2 separate regions of the Homo sapiens genome follow, and region 1 is linked to region 2. The links come from fine-mapping of genetic effects on gene expression. Tissue or cell type: atrial appendage. Region 2 holds a variant in brackets; the other region holds the start of a gene. All regions are shown on one strand. Distances are between the middles of the regions.

Evidence for each region. PIP is the estimated chance that this variant, and not a neighbour inherited with it, causes the effect.
Region 1: PAK6 starts here. The variant in region 2 is fine-mapped to the expression of PAK6 in atrial appendage (GTEx, PIP above 0.99).

Annotation. Positions count from the first base shown.
Region 1 is chr15:40,234,127-40,242,226 of GRCh38, reverse strand. PAK6 (p21 (RAC1) activated kinase 6) reads right to left here and starts at 3,164. Exons shown (of 11, transcript NM_001395430.1): 1 at 2,425-3,164; 2 at 1,546-1,628. All of the region lies in intron 1 of BUB1B-PAK6 (BUB1B-PAK6 readthrough), which reads right to left. It overlaps LOC107984763 (a long non-coding RNA gene), which reads left to right and starts at 2,526. Exons shown (of 3, transcript XR_001751506.2): 1 at 2,526-2,742.
Region 2 is chr15:40,270,374-40,278,473 of GRCh38, reverse strand. It overlaps BUB1B-PAK6 (BUB1B-PAK6 readthrough), which reads right to left. Exons shown (of 10, transcript NM_001128629.3): 5 at 5,753-6,250; 6 at 5,475-5,608; 7 at 5,002-5,128; 8 at 4,798-4,923; 9 at 4,198-4,332; 10 at 987-2,547. The coding sequence ends at 2,380. It overlaps PAK6 (p21 (RAC1) activated kinase 6), which reads right to left. Exons shown (of 11, transcript NM_001395430.1): 6 at 5,753-6,250; 7 at 5,475-5,608; 8 at 5,002-5,128; 9 at 4,798-4,923; 10 at 4,198-4,332; 11 at 987-2,547. The coding sequence ends at 2,380. ANKRD63 (ankyrin repeat domain 63) reads left to right here. Exons shown (of 1, transcript NM_001190479.3): 1 at 1-102. Among named protein-coding and RNA genes, the nearest start is that of ANKRD63, 8.6 kb to the left of the region's middle. RefSeq lists enhancers at 4,037-4,537, 5,259-5,760. The variant A/G (reference allele first, on the strand shown) is at 3,308.

The DNA.
Region 1 (8,100 bases), 36 kb after region 2:
CTCCCACAGAAGCGGGCTGGCATAAGAAGGCCAGCTGTCTGGAGTCCTCCCTGAGCCCTCAGGACCCCAGGCAGCCTTTTCCTTTCCTGCTCAGCCTGCCCTGGCCCCTACTCTCTGCTCCCTCCTGGCCCAACCTGCTGCCCGCTGCTGGCCTGCTGTCTACCTAGTGCTCGACAGCCTCCGCCCCTCTGACCCCAACTGGGCAGCAGCCCCTGCTCAGCTCTGCATGCATGGAAGACTCCTAGGCACAGAGTCACCTTTTGTGAGGCAGCATGAGATACCCCCACAGCTGGGTCATTCTCCTCATCCAGGAGCCAGGTGTGGGAATTCACTGGCATGAGAGACACTTATGGGTTCCTCCTGACTCTGAGCACATGTGCTCCTCCAGGGCAGGGGACTTTTTGGTCATCCTTAGGAGTTGTGCACAGAGCGGGCTTTCCTTGGCTGGAGACCCCACCCACTGCACCCTCCCTGTGTCTGGCAAGTCCGGGAGGGCCCAGAGCACTCACAAAGCATCAGTTTGTCCTCGGGGCACTGGAGAGGCCGTGCAGTCCCCACACTCCCCCTCTCAGGTGCACAGAGCTTCCATCCAAATCAGCTGCTCCCAGAAGGGCTTGCCTCTGGTGCCGACCCTTCCCTGACCAGGCGCTCTGTCACTAGGGCTCCCAGGTGCCACCTCCAAGCCTGGGCCAGGACAACCGCCAGGGAAGCCTGCCTGCAGAGGGGACTCCTTGCTTGCCCCAAAGGCCTCAACCCCAGCTAGATGAGCTCCCGTGGGGCTGAGTCCCAGGCCCACCAGGCCTGGGGGCCACACGGCTCCTAAGCTCATCCTCTCCTCCTGCAGCCCAGTTCCCACCAGAACCAGCCTCAGGAAGACCCCAGGCAGAACGGCACAAACCTCTTGGTGTACAATGCCAGGGAAAGGATAACTGGAGACCACAAGACGTTAGCCTTGCTTCCCGGTGGGGCCCAGTGCTTTATAAACCCGAGCTCACTGGGCCCGATGTCCCCAAAGCTGACCAGGTCATCCACCCTGCAGCAGGGGTGGGGAGACCAAGGCCTGTGAGGAGTGACCGTGCTTGGCCAGGCAGCTCCCTGAACCTGCCCTGATGCTGAGTTTCAGAGTCAGAATCTGTGCCAGGTCAAACCCAGCCAAAGGGTGTGACTTGGAGCCTGGGACCCAGCAGTGCTCCCTAAATATTTGTGGAATGAATACACAAGGGAAATGTCCCAGAGGTGGTAAAGTGAGAGGGGCCTTGGATAGGGGTGTCCCGGTGGCACTGGCTTGGCCCAGCTGGGGCAGGAAGAGTAGAAACAAGCACCTCTCCCTCTAGCTAGGGAGCCAGAGACCAGCTGGGATTGGACTGTTTCACAATCAATCTGGAAAGAAGGTGGCAGGCCGGGTGGGGAGTGGAGCCCCTTGACCCAGGAACCCACAGCTGTGGAGTTAGCCTCCCTGTCCCAGGTGGGAGGCAGCCTGGACACCTTGGCACCCCCGTCCCTAGCCCAGGAATCCGGAGCACGCAGCGGCAGTGGGGACCTTACCGTGGCTGCTCCTTCTGGGCAGCGGGGTCCTGCGTTCTCCACTGCAGGCTGGTGCTTGTCTCTAGCCCAGGAAGCGGCACTCCCTTCAGGCAAAATAGAAAAAAAAAAAAAAAAAAAAAGGAAAAGAAAACCTCAGTGCTTTTCTCACCCAGCCTCTTCTCTTGAAGGCTCCTGGTTGGTATTGTCCTGCCACTGTGGGCACACAGCCTCCCTCCCTCTGGCAGCTTACTCACTGGTGCCCGCAAAGCTGCCAGCTGTGTGGGGGAGAAGGGACCTCCCCCCTCCTCCTGACACACACTGGGGCATGCCCTGTGGGGACCAGGGGCTTGAGGGTGGCACCCGCTGGGTCCTGATCATGGGGAAGCCGTACCCTGGCCAGCACCCTTCTCACTGAATGTGTCCCTGTGAGCTCAGCAGAGACGCACATGGGTGCTGACTGGCCCTGCATAAGAGAGTGACATGGTTCTTGGTAGGAAGCTGTTTCCTTGGTACCCAGGCCTGCCAGAATGAAGGGGCAGCTGATGGGCTGTCCAGCCCCCCAGTGATGGGCTCTCACCCTGGCCAGCCCCTCCGGACGGCTTCCTACCTGGGCATCTTGCTGTGTCTCTGTCCTGTGCACCCAGACAGGGCCTGGGCCTGCCGGGGCTGGCAGCTGCTCCTCACCCTGCTCAGGCCGTGTGTCTGGCGTCCCCTCTCCCTGACGCCCATCTCAGGGCCTGCGCCCACCCAGCATCAGTTAGGATAAACTCCTGTCAAGCCCCCAGCCAGCTCTCTGCTGGACCCAGCTGCTGTCCCCAGCAGGGGGACGGCACACACACTGGCTTACACACTCTCGCACTCACACACACGTGGGTCCACACCCAACACAGAGCCACCTACCTGCCCAGGCCAGCCTAAGCCAATCCAGCCTCGCTCTCCAAATGCCACTCCGACCCCAGAAGCCACTCCTTTACCGAAACATCCCCGTGGGAGATGAGTTCAGAGCCAGCCCGGGAGGACTCCAGTCAGCTCGGACAAGACTGCCCTTCTGTCCCAACACCTCCAGAGGACACACACAGGCAGCCTGACCACCATATCTGCTATTGCACTCTGCCTGCTGCCACAGCCCCCCGGGCACTTCTGGCCCCCACAGCGTCTTCCATATCTTTAGGGGGTGGCAGCAGACTCACAGCAAGTCCCATCTTCCTGGAGCCCAAGGTAGGGAGGGGAGAGCTAGAAGGGGCGGGACTCAGGTGCAGCTCCAAGTTTCCAGCTCCCAAAATAATCAGATGCAAAGGAGAAGCAAGAACAGCTCGAGGCGGGCGGTGACTCAGTGCTAGTGGGCCGGCTTAGTCACCTGGATGGCTGCTGGCGGCTCCTGGCACATCAGGACGGGAGCAGCGCCCTCCCCCACCTGCCTGGACCGTGGCTGTCTCCAGAGTGTGGCCGCCGAGCCCCGCGCCCAGGGCTGCCTGGCAGGCGAGGCCGCTCCACCCCGCTCCCGCCCATCAGGGCCCAGCGGCCCCGGCTGCGGCGCGCCCCTCCTCCACCGCGCGCCCCGGCTCACTTTGGGATTTCTCCATTAAATCCTCAGGCATCGACCTGCTCGTTTGGGGCGCCGAGCTGCTCCAACGTTGCTTGGCAATTTTGATATCGTCGGGGGTTGCCATGGGGAGGAAGGTGATGTCATTGACACAAAAAACCCACTGAATTTACAAATCAGCTGGGGCTGGAGCTATTTATAAAAACACGTTTTTATCTGCCTTTCTTTGCTGAAGGGGAGGAGGAGGAAGGGCTGCCTGCCGGGCTCAGGGTGAGCCTCCCTGCTGTCCTTCCTACCCTTGCCCTAGAGAAGCCAGACCTCCTTGGCTCACCCCCACCCCCACCCCCCAGAACTTGGAGCTGCGCATTCAGATCTGGCAGGTGCTGGTCTCAGCTGGTTTTGCTTCGAAGGCTGAGAGTGGCACATGGGATGTAAGGCAGGGTGGGTGCTGGCTTCCTGGGCTGGCAGGGACCAGAAACCAGTTACTCAACCGGGTCCCTTTATTTCATTGCCCCTGGTCAGAAACAGAGGCATTTGCTGGTGAGGCAGCTTGAGCTCCTTGATGTGCCCCCCTGCCAGCTCCCCGGAGCGCCAGGTGGAGCCCAGCCTTCCACAGTGCCCTCCCCATCCCTAGCCTCAGTGTCTCCTCCACTGGCTTCTTTTCTTCTCCTAGTGTCCAATCGTGGGCTGCCCAAGCTCCAGGCTTGGTCCCCTGCTCATCTCTCCCCACACTCAGCCACCACTCCATCAAAACACCTTTTTTCTGTGGCTTTGACCATCACCTGGGCAAATGCTTGCCCGAAAACCCATTTTGTGCCTGCCCCACTTCAGGCGCCACCTCTGATGGCCCAGCTCCCACTGCCAGGACCCACTAGCTATTGACAGCCAGAGGGAAGCCTGGGAGTTCTTGCCTCTTCCCGTCCCCCAGTCCCTTATATCCAAGGTGGCACTTGGCTCTACATTTTATTTTTGAAAACTTTCTAACTTTCTTCTGTAGCGAAGCCATGTGGTGTTTGGTTAAAAGTCCAGGCTGTGAGTCTTCAGTCTTCCGCATCTCAGCTCCACTGTTCATCAGTTGAGTGACCTTTGGCATGTTATTGAACCAATTGAACTTCAATTTCCTCATCCATAAAATGGGGATGATTTCACCTGCCTCACAGGGCTGTGGAAATTAAAGGAATAAAGTTTCTGGCACAGAGACTGCTCATCTTGATCCCAATAAACATTAGTTTTTATCCACCCCTCCACTGATGGCAGATTAATCTTCCCAAATCATGACCCTAGGCACCTTCTGTGCAAAGGTCTCAAGCTGCATGCGTAGACATTTTGATTGAACGCAGTGTTAGATGTCATGGCATTAAACATAAGAATTTCAATTTGTGGCCAGGCACAGTGGCTCACGCCTGTAATCCCAGCACTTTGAGAGGCTGAGGCGGGTGGACCATGAGGTCAAGAGATTGAGACCAGCCTGGCCAACATGGTGAAACCTCATTCCACTAAAAATACAAAAATTAGCTGGGCGTGGTGGCACATGCCTGTAATCCCAGCTACTTGGGAGGCTGAGGCAGGAGAATTGCTTGAACCCGGGAGGCGGAGGTTGCAGTGAGCCAAGATTGTGCCACTGCACTTCAGCCTGCGCGACAGAGCGAGACTCTGTCTCAAAAGAAAAAAAAAGTTCAATTTGTGGTCAATATGAAACATTTTCCCTTTAACTAGGTTATCAGTTCCTTTTGGAGAGGAACTCTGTATTTTTCTTCTTTTTGTATCTCAATGTAATTTTGTGTGTAAACTTATAAATAATCCACTTCTGCTCTGTCTCACTAAGGAATGATCCAGGAAATGCAAACTAAAACAAAAGGGATATACCACTCCCTGTCATTATACAGTGAAAAAAAAATGGCAGGTGGGAGAGTGAATTGGTACAGTCTTCTTGGAGGGCAATTTTACAGTCTTGACCAAAATTTCAAAATGTGTATGTACTTGATCCAGCAAATGCACTTCTAGGAATCCAAGTTAAGAAATAGTTGCACATCGGCCTGAAGATATTTGTATAAGAATATTCATGGTAGCACTGTTTGTAACTGCAAAGAATTTGAAGCCACCAAAATGTGCATCAATTGGGCAGATTAATTGGGTGACAGATCTATACAGGATGGTACATCCCCATGCAATGAAGTATCTGCAGCCTTAAAATGAATGAGTTTTGTCAGTCGGTATGTATGTACCAGCTATGTGTGTACCGGTATGCATGTACATACGTATGTATGAGGAAGGATGACCACGATAGTTGAGCAAAAAGACCAGGTTTATCAATGTTAACTTGAAAATGAGATGGCATAATCTCATATAAGTTTTTTTATTTAAAGATATTTCTATATCTGTATGTTTAAACCGCAAACTGTCAATGTGGTTATCCTTGGAAATAGGAGTGGTGGTGAGAGGGGTCTTTCACTTTGGACTTTTTACACTCTTGCATTGTTTCAGTGAACATGTACTGTTGTATTTAAACAATACAAAAGTAAAAATAAAGGAATGTATGTTTTTAAAACTAATAATAGGCCAGACGCAGTGGCACACGCCTGTAATCCCAGCACTTTGGGAGGCCGAGGTGGGTGGATCACCTGACGTCAGGAGTTCGAGACCAGCCTGGCCAACATGGCGAAACCCCGTCTCTACTAAGAATACAAAAATTAGCTGGGTGTGGTGGTGGGCACCTGTAATCTCAGCTACTCAGGAGGCTGAGGCGGAGAATTGCTCGAACCCGGGAGGTGGAGATTGCAGTGAGCAGACTGTGCCATTGCATTCCAGCCTGGGCAACAGAGCGAGACTCAGTCTCAAAACAAACAAACAAACAAACAAACAAACCCTAATAATAGAAAACCAAGAGCTATGAAGAGTACCTAAAACTTGTATATTTGAACATTTTCCTCTGCAAAGTCCACTTTAAGGCAATGTGGGGATATGGAAAACACTTTTTCTTCCTTCATGTCTTTCAAATTTTCAGAAATGTTGTTAGAGGGAGGGGCAACATGAAGATGTGAAGGCACTAAGGCAGGAGATAGAGTTTATTACGTTAAATTCAAAACACTATCATCTTATTCAGATAATAATTACAATGACTCTCTTTAAGAAATGTAACATTTCTAAGTTTCTGCCAGTTTATGAGAAGCAGGCGGAAATTCCTGAAGAAACATCAACAATTTCATAAATCAAGAAAAATCATGTTTTCCAGATTTCTGCTATAGTAGCTAGCAGAGATAATAGCCATTTCATGAAAGGAACTGAGAACTAAACAAACCAGCTCTCCTGAATCTGCATCAGTCAGGTTCTCTGTTAGCCTGGAGAATCAAGTCCAGGACAGAAGCTATGGCAGTCCTGGGGTCTCTAAGCAACAGGACTGACTGCAGTCCCACAGATCACCCCTGCCTGGATGAGAGATGCTCCCACCATGCTGTCCACCTAGTGCATCCTTGCAGGGAAGGAGTCTGATTGGCTGGCTCAGGTCATATGCCTGTCTCTCAGGGAGGGTATCCTGGAGAGAGTGCTTCTGTTATCACACGATATAGGGAGGAAAGTTAGGGTGCTGTTACTAAACCAAAGGGGAATGGGTGCTGGAGACCAAAGGGGACCAGCCAATGATTGCCACAGCATCTTTGCCTCTTTTTCTAATTATTTTCAATTCCTGAGTGTGATAATCAGCCACTGTTGATATTCGATTCCTGTCTTGTGAAACTGATGGCCTGTGCAAACTGAGACCAGTTCCTCTATTCTATCATGTTTCTTGACTTCCTGATTTGATGAGAGGATCTGCAAATTTAGAACCATTTTTTCCACAGGCTGTAGAAAGGGGGGCTCCACCGGCCTGCAAAGGTATGGCTGCTGCTGCAGTGGGCAGGCCAGCAGATGCCTGTGTTTTTGGGCCAGTGGTCGGCCCTGGTGCTTAGCACATGGCAGGTGCTCATGTAAACTTTGTTGAAGGAATGAATGAACATCTTTAGAGGTTCTGTGCTCTAGCCACCCTCCTTAGAATGCGTGAATCCCAGAGCTGAAAGGCACTCTAGGGATATCAGCCCTGTCCCTCCTTCTACAGGTGAGAAAACCACAGCCCCAAGAGATTAGGTGACTCAGCAAAGCCTCAGAGAAAATTAAAGGCAGTCAGGAACTCAGCTGTTCCTCCTCACAGATCCATGAAGTTCCCTTTGCTGCCGACGGCAGCCCCATGCTAGCAGCAAGCTCTGAGTGTGACAGATCTGTAATTTGGACAAAGGCAGTGGTGGTGCTGTCACCACAGACATTTCTGCCTTTGAATCTTGGCTCCCAGGGATTTGCAGCCGCATGAATCAGTCAAGCCAGTGTCCTTACAATTTCTTAAAGTCTTTTACTGTGTTTTTGTTAATGGACATATACAGTACTTGCAGTCTCAAAAGTAATTTGCCTCACCTGCACCGTTTTGGTGAGTTGGATTCAGCTGGAACAACTGTTTATATCAACCTTGTCCCACTGCATGGTTTTAAAGAAACCATCTGGGGATGTGTTTGGAAAGGCCATGTAGCAATGAAGTTCTAAAAATTTTCATAAACTAGTGCTTCCCAAGTTTTCCTAAAGAATAATAAAAACTTTTAGAAACAAAGCCTAGGGCTCCAGTGTGTGGGTAAAATTCCTTTGCTGCCAAATTTTTCTAGATCTTTAGATGCTTCCCCACACTCCACACCCGCTTGTGCTGCATGTACAGAGGGTGCCTCACTCAGGCCTTCTGATGGGCCTGTCTCCACCCACCTACACTAGTCAGCGCCTCTCACCGCAGGGCCAGGAAGGGAGGAACAGATTCTGTTCTCCTTCCTTCCCACCATCCCAAGCCAGGGCAGGTTCCGGAAAGGAAGGGCTTGATTAATGAGCAGGTGTTGCCACTGAAGGCCTGTATATCCCACACTCCAGAGCTGGTCTTACCTTGGCGGCACTCGTCAGCCCTGCGCCTCCGGGAGAGCTAGGCCAGAAGCAGGGGCTCTACCTTCAAGAGATTTTTCTCAAGCTCC
Region 2 (8,100 bases):
AGCTGTGAGACATGCACACCCTTTCAGAGTGATACTGTGTGGTGGAAGGACTGTTAGAACTCAAAGAATAGTTAATAAATCCAGTGTATTATTCCGTTGCGAGAACTGGCCTCTCTTTGCCTTATCAAGCACTCCTGACCCTCGGCTCCCTTTGGAGAGATGGACCGAGCCTTTGCCTCCTGTGGAGGCCCCTGCCTTAGTGAGCCTCCGCCCTGCCCGTCCTACTGTGCTGGCTCCTGAAGGTAAGTCACAGGTGCTGCTTCTGCTGAGCTGGGGGGACAGGCCGGGCCAGCCGCAGCACCAGGGCACCTGTCAGGGTGTGAATGCACTGGGGAGTGAAAGAAAGGCTGCATGGTTCCTTGCTCCTGGCTTGCTCCTGAATCCTGGGCAGTGGGAGATCTCAGGAAGGAAGTGCGGGAATCCGTGTGGGAGCTGGAAGTTGCAAGATAATTTCATCCACCTCCCCACCCCCAGAACGAAAGCCCAGGCTCCCTGGTTTCCAGGCTCTGCTCCGTTCTTTTTGAACCCCACACCATCTCCCTCAGTCCTGAGGAGTGAGGCAGGGACTGCTCTCCCACTGGAAGCGGTTTCAGACCACTTCCTATGGACAGCTGGAGGTCTGGGGTGGGGGTGAGGAGCGCGCAGAGGATGGGAGAAGCTGACACACAGGGTGGTCGTCAGCCACTTCGGCCACCCCCCGCAAACGCAGCGCAGGGCCCTGGCTTTCCTTGTGGGCTCTTCTCCCCTGGGGAAGTAGCCCCGTCTATTTTTCATCGCCTTCATTCCCAAGGGCCTTTCACTTCCTGTTTCCCTTCCTCTCTGCCCTCCTTTCGGGTCCACAGGCCACCAGGGAAGTTGGGTGTTCTGTGGTGTGGCTGCTGGAGAGCTCACGTGGGGAGGAGGGGAGGCTACACGAGATTCACCCGCCACAGGAGACCCCCCTCCAAGACGGCCGGTCTCCGCTCCCAGAGACACAGGAAGCCCAATGGCTTTGAACACTCAATTTAATTTAAAACAGGCACAAGTGCAAACAATTCACAAAAATTTCTAGGGAAGATGCTTTTGTTTTGAAAACTCTGACCCTTAAAAAAAAGTCCTTGCAATTTCTTTGCCCCCAGGTAGGTCACTAGGGAGCAGAAGAATCTAAAAATATTATCTAGATAGAAAGGGTCCAGACACCTGAAGTTCTTTCCTGGAATTCCATCTCACAGCAGCCCTGAAGTGGGGCAGGGCCGAGGAGGACAAGGAGACAGCAGTCTGTGGAGGCAGCTGGGGCAGATGGTTTGCACACATGGATGCCTGTGACCTTGACATGATGGAAACCCGGAGGTGGTTCGCCTTCTCTCCCAGATAGGGTTCTGAAGAGAACAATGGGTCCCTGATGACCTGGTTATTGAGATAAACTTGAAAGGTAACACAGTTGCCAATCCTTACATTCCTGTCTCTGGCCCTCACGATGCACAGTACAGGAGAAGCTCAGAAGCCTCCTGAGCTCCCAGGAGTGTTAGACTTAGCATGGACCACTCCACTGGCCAGGTAGACACAGGAGTGGAGAGGTGGAAGCCAGGCCAAGAAAGCAGGTCCCTTCAGGCCAGAACTTAGTGGGAGAGAGGGGCAGCCTTCCTGAAACTGGCTGTGGGTGACCTGGAGGGACCTGGGCTGTCAAGGTGGCTTTCCTCCCCTTACACACACACACACACACACACACACACACACACACACACGATGTTCTCTCCATTCTGTAAAGTGAGAGCACCTTCACCACCGACCCCATTCTTTCTCTTTCACTCAGAAATTGTCCCCTCACTCCCTGCCCCCAGCCATGGCCTGGAGCAGGCCATTCACAGTTCTGGGCGGGGAGGGGCTGTACAGGTGGGACTGCACCTTCAGGACATCAGACGTGAGGGAGGAAGCGGGATTCCGGTCATAAAAACCACCCCGTGGCCCTCTCGAGACTCGAGGTTTGAAGCTGGAGCTGAGAACAGCAGGTATCTGTGGAGACCAGCAGTCTGCCCTCTGCAGTGGCCTAGGACACTAGTGGACAACTGCCTTTAAAAAACCACAGCAGCCTTTTCTACTGTGTTGGCTGCAGAGGCCAGGAACGCTGGCCTCTGCGTTTCTTAGAAATATCCCTGTGCAAATATCAAGGGGTCATCCTGTAGAAAGGGGTCTCCATCTGGGGACTCGGGAGGGAGAGACACTGAGGGGGCAGGTCCGGCCTGGCCCAGTAGGCTGAAGGGCAGAGGGTGGGGCTGGGGCTTCACATTTCAATCTTTGGAGAGAATACTGAGAGGAGGAGGCAGGCAAGTCCTGCCGGCAGGCTGGCTGCCCAGTGTGCCCTGCCTGTGGGCGTAGGTGGCAGGCATACTTGGGGTGGGCTCAGCAGGTGGAGGTCTGCTTTCGGTAGAGCTGGATCAGGGGCACCAGGCACTCAGGTAGCCCTGTCTGCAGCAGGAAGGGGTGGTCTAGGAGCTCCTGGGCTGTGGCTCTCTCTTGGGGGTCCCGCACCAGCATCCGCTCCAGGAAGTCTCGCAGCACTGGGGAGACCTGTAGAGGCAGGGCAGTAAGATGAAGCCACAATTTGCAGTCACTTCGGGGTGACCTGATTGCCTGGACTTATCATTGTTTGAAAGTCATGAATTCGCTGGTTTTTTAACTTCCTGTTCCCTTGTCCCTCCCCACCCCCTCAAGGCTCTCAGCATTCAGATGCTATAGCTCTGTGGAAGGGGCAGAGGATTGGCATCAGTGATCCAGATCTGGCTCTATCCGTGATCTCAGGCAAGTCACAGTTTTCTCTAGGCCTCAGTTTTCTCATCTGTAAAATGGGCTAGTGATAAAGTATGCTTGCCCTGTCTGCCACATAGGGCTTTTGAGATTTTAAAAACAGGTCGCTGGGCGCAGTGGCTCAAGCCTGTAATCCCAGCACTTTGGGAGGCCAAGTTGGGCAGATTACGAGGTCAGGAGTTCGTAGACCAGCCTGACCAACATGGCGAAACCCTGTCTCTACTAAAAATACAAAAATTAGTTGAGCATGGTGGCACGTGCCTGTAATCCCAGCTACTCAGGAGGCTGAGGCAGGAGAATTGCTTGAACCCAGGAGGCGGAGGTTGCAGTGAGCTGAGATCGCACCACTGCATTCCAGCCTGAGCAACAGAGAGAGACTCCATCTCCAAAAAAAAAAAAAAAAAAAAAACCAACAACAACAGAAACAAACAAGTCAAGGATGAGGAAGTACTCTGAAAAATAGAAAATAAAGTGAGACCTGAAAAGGAAGATTTCTTTGTTGCTCTAGGCCTTAAGAGTCTAA[A/G]GCAAGGGCTTATCTTGGTTCATTTTGAGCCAGTATCTTGGGATGAGGCTGAGTCTTGGGCAGAAGGCTACATCCTCTGAGGAATTAGCCAACTGGAGATCTTTATATGCTAATTTTGGGGTTAGCGGTGCGGGCTCCAAGGACCAGTTGTCTTGGAAGATGTTTCCTGTTGGTCCTCCCATCCAGCTTTGTGTTGGGGCCACAGAACTCTTGTTTTTTTGCTATTTTAGAGGAGAGGCTTCAGCCCTCTGAGACATTTCTTGTTTTGGCCACCAGATGGCGGTGCCACTTAGCAGCCCCGTGCTGACCTGCCAGCAGGGGGCGTCCACAGTAAGGCCTGCGGGGTTGGGGCCGATTTGGCAAAAAGGGTTACATGTATACACTTCCATGCACTTATACTGGCTTTAAGGGGAACGCTGTGGCTTAGCTGTGTCGGGGTGTGCAACGATGGAGCATGAGCCGACTCGCCGTGATGGACAGGGACATCGAATCATGGTATGGATCTCCCGACACGGGTTAGAAGGGTTTGTGCTCAGTGAAGCTTCTCCGGATCCCTCCCTGGACAGCAGGGATTGCTGGTGTCCTGGCTTTCCCTGCTCATGGGCCCCACTGGGCTTCCGACCAGTGCCTGCCAAGCAGCAACCCTTCTGCCAAGCAGCAACTCTCCTGCCACAGCCGTGGGAGGCGACTTGTCGGAGCGCACATGCGAACTTGTGCGTAGATGCGGCTCCACACCCAGGTGCGGGTTTTGTGTGGGGAAAGAGGAGCCTTTTCCAGGAGCCCAGACCCTGTGGCTTCAGTGGAAGGGAGATGCTGGGAGCCCAGGTTCTGGTCCCCTTGCCTCAGGAGGAATGGGGTCTGCGAGGTCGCACCCTTGTGTGCCAACTGACCTTGTGAGAGTTTTTCAGCTTGGGTGGGGGGCTGTCCCGGAGCCTCTTCATGGCTTGCACTGGGGAGTCACTGAAGTACGGTGGCTCCCCATCTACCATCTCAATCACCATGATGCCCAGAGACCAGATATCCACCTGCAGGAGGAAAATGTCCCTGACCCCATGGCCAGACCCTGGCCCATTGGTAGCTGCGTTCTGGTGGCAGCAGTGGTGGAGGGGGGACAGCTGGCCCCAGCTCTCCTTGGTGGGTCTGTCTCCTTCCTCCCCTGGTCACCTGCCCTGTGGCCAGTTACTGCCTGCATGAGTGACCACTGCCTATAGGGACACAGCTGTCAGTCACTCAGAGAAAGGCCATCATACATAGGAGGCCCGGCCATACCCCATTCTGCCCTTGAGCTGAGGAAAGCACTTGCAGGACTCGTTCCTGGCAGCAAAGTCACTGGGTAAGAGCAGCCCCATCGAAAGGGGGAAGGGTGTTGACTAGGTGGGACTCTGAAAACCAGGGCTGCTTTTGGTGAGCTCACTGGAGGGGCCACAGCAGAAGAGCTGCCAGTTGCCAAGTTGCTTTTGGGAGGTCTGGGGGGTGGAGGGAACGGTTACCTCAGTGGCATACAAAGACCTGGAGATCACTTCAGGAGCCATCCAGTAGGGGGTTCCCACCAGGGACTTCCTCTTAGGGACGTCTTTGCTGATCTGAGCACAGAATCCGAAGTCCGAGAGCTTCACCTGCGGTTGAAAAGGGAGTGAGTGGTGGATCAGGAGGAAGTGGGAGCGTGGCTGTGCCAGGGACAGGATGGGACCTACCCTGCCATCGAGGGTCAGCAGGATGGAGTCACTCTTGATGTCCCGGTGGATGACACCCTGAGCATGCAGGTAGGCCAGGGCCTGCAGCACAGCCTCACACACAGTGGCAATCTGCTCCTCATTCAGCCTGGACAGGAAGGTGGGGCCACCCGATGAAAGAGAACGTTAGCTCTGGCAGGTCGTGGGGTGGCTGAGCAGAGTAGGAGTCCCTGGTGCTAGGCCCCACAGCTCCCAGGCAATCTGTTTGGCAGCACAGTCAGGCCATAGCCCTGGTGAAAACTGGGGCCTGAGCTTTGGCTAGAAGCTATCCTTCTCTTCTCCACTCCCAAGACCCCTGGGTCTCAGTTACCCCAGCAGGCAGGGGAGCCCAGGCATCCCAAGTCTTCTGGGCCACAGGCAGAAGACCACATTGCCCTGGCAGGGCCATGGTGAGGGCAGCCTGCACTCAGGGTCCAGCCCTCCCAGCTGCCCACCTGACTTGGGAGACGATGTCTGTGAGGGCTCCTCCCTGCAGGAACTCCATGAGCACCCACAGCTCCTCGCCCACCAGGTAGCTCTTGTACATCTCCACCACGTTGAAGTGCTGGTAGTCCCGCATGATCACCACCTGGGGGCAGGCGGGGGCCTGAGTGCCAGGCACAGTGCCCAGACGCATGGCCACCCACTGCCCCTGCTCACAGATGTCCAGCCTGGCTGGCTGCTCACTGCCCATCCCCAACGCCCCCGTCTGTGTCCCACCCTGTCCTCCCACCTCGTTGAAGAGCAGCTCCCTGCGCTGCTGCTTCCTGAGGTCCATCATCTTGACGGCCACCTGGCGGCCCGAGTGCTTCTCCCGGGCCAAGCAGACGATGCCGGTGGAGCCCTCGCCAATCTTCACGTAGCTGTCCAGCAGCAGCCGGGGGTCACCCTGGTCCACCACCATCCTGAGCGCAGCCTTGAACTGCTCATGTGTCACAACACCTGTGTCCTCACCAGCCAGGGCACCCTTGGCAACCGTGGGGTCCTGGGGCAGGTACAGGTTGCTGGTGCTGATCTGGGCGTGCCAGGTGCGGGGGGATCCCGCTGGGGAAGACCGGCCTGGAAGCTGGCCTGTGGCCGGGGCTGTGCGGAGGGACTTCTGGGGGCTGCTGGTATCCGAAGTGGTCAGAGGGCTGAAGGTCCCCACCGGCTGGTCCGAGGGCAAGGACTGGGCCTTGGCCACCAGGCTTGGGGGGTTGTCTTTCTGCGGCGGTCGGAAAGAGGAGTTGGGCTGCAGGGACAAAGCAACAGGAAGGGTCAGGGCTGTGGGAGCATTTGGAATAACCTTCCCGGAGGCAGGGGCTGGCCGCCGTGACCTCTGGACTCTGGCAGGGTCAGGCGGGGTATCAGATCAAACTAGGGAGGTGCTCTGAGCAAAGATTTTCAGACAGAGCTGAAGCCCAGTCACAGTCCTGTGCCAGCAGTCCCCCGCAGGGCACCAGGCTGGGCAGGCCCAAGACAGCTCCTTACACTCGCTCTGCTGCACCTGGGAAGACAGAGAAGGCCAGCTCCCCGCCGGGTCCTGCGCTGGGTATTTCTTCCTGGGCGATTGACAGCTAGACCCCAGGGAGGCTGCCGTGAGGCAGACTCTTCCTCTGAGCTCAGAGGCTGCTTGAAGAATCTGGGTCAGAGGCATTCTTCACTCCCAAGGCTCCCCCACCCCAGGACCCATGGGGGCAGAAGAGGCCTGGCAGTGGGGTGGGGAGCAGTGGGCAACTGTGTCTCCACTCCCTGAACCAAGGCAGGGGAGCCACACCTGGGGCCCGATAGCCCTGCCTGTGCCTGCAGCAGGGAGTTTGCAAATCTGTGCTGGGAGGTTATGTCCCTGACAGAGGACCACAGAGGTGTGTCACCATCTGGGGGGTTCTCAGGTGTCTCCCCTGGGCTGGGAATCTGGTGCCAGAGAGATCTGGAGTTAGGAGGGTAGGTCCAGCCAAACCCAAGCCTTGAGGCCAGGGATGGGGAGATGTCTTAAGGACCCCCTAAAGGAGTCCTTCCACTTCCTCCCTGGCATGAAACTCCTGGCTAAGGAGCCCCCGGGAGGGAGGAGAAGGTAGGGGGCCTATCCTCATTGGCTCTGGCAGGGAGGGAGGAAGGGAAGGTGGAGCTGAGGGGCAGCCTGGGCCCCCAGTGAGCCCTGCTCAGGCCCAGCCCTGGAAGCCTGCGAGGCTTCTTGCTTTTCCGAGCCCAAGCCCTTCTGCTCTTTCTGACAGGAAAGGTGCCCGCCCATCTTTGGGTTCTCCCCAAGGAGCGGTGATATGCACCATGACCCCTCCCAGGGATTACGTGTTTTTAAAGGGCACCTGGAGAGGGATGCTTCAGGGGATGCAGAAAAAGCCTTCTAGGAACTTCTCCAAACCCATCATGTAAGCCATTGTCTTAGGTGCCCAGTGGGTCCTGGTCCTGATCCCATAGCTGAAACAACTTACAGGAAATCTCAAGCAGTAAGTTTGGGCTGGGATGCTTGCTCAGGGACCCCAAACCCCAAATCTGGGCCTTGGGCCCCACCAGAGTCTTTTCAGTGTCTTTGGCAACCCTCACTCCCTTCCTTCCCCGACCCCCCGCAGCTTCAGGGCTTCTACTCTCCAGCCAAGTCCCTGGCCTGCTTAGGGTGGAATAGGCACTCCTGCTGGCCGACAGCCATGCTGGGGCAGACTTCTGCCACCCCCACACCTGCCTGCCCACCCGAGTGTGTGCTTGACCTTCACAGGAAAGAAGCTAGCAATCCTCCCAGGACTGCCTGGACTCACTCCATCCCTGATGAGTACATTTGGACAGTAAACATTCTCCCATGTCCTCGCCAGCACCTGACTGTCACCATCCACTGTGACACTGTGACACTGTCACCATCCACTGTGTAGTGGAGCAGTGGGACCCCTGGACTGGGCTGTCAGGACCTGGGGCCCAGCCCTGGGCTGCTCTGCCCTGTGATGAGCCTTAGGCAAGTCATCCTCTCTGAGCCTGTCTCCACTACAATGCAGGGACGTGTGCAGAGATCTGGGGAGCTAGAGAAACCGCAGACTTCCCGCCTCAGAGCCTGATTCGGTGGGAGCCTAGAGCAGAGACTGCATTTGAACAAGG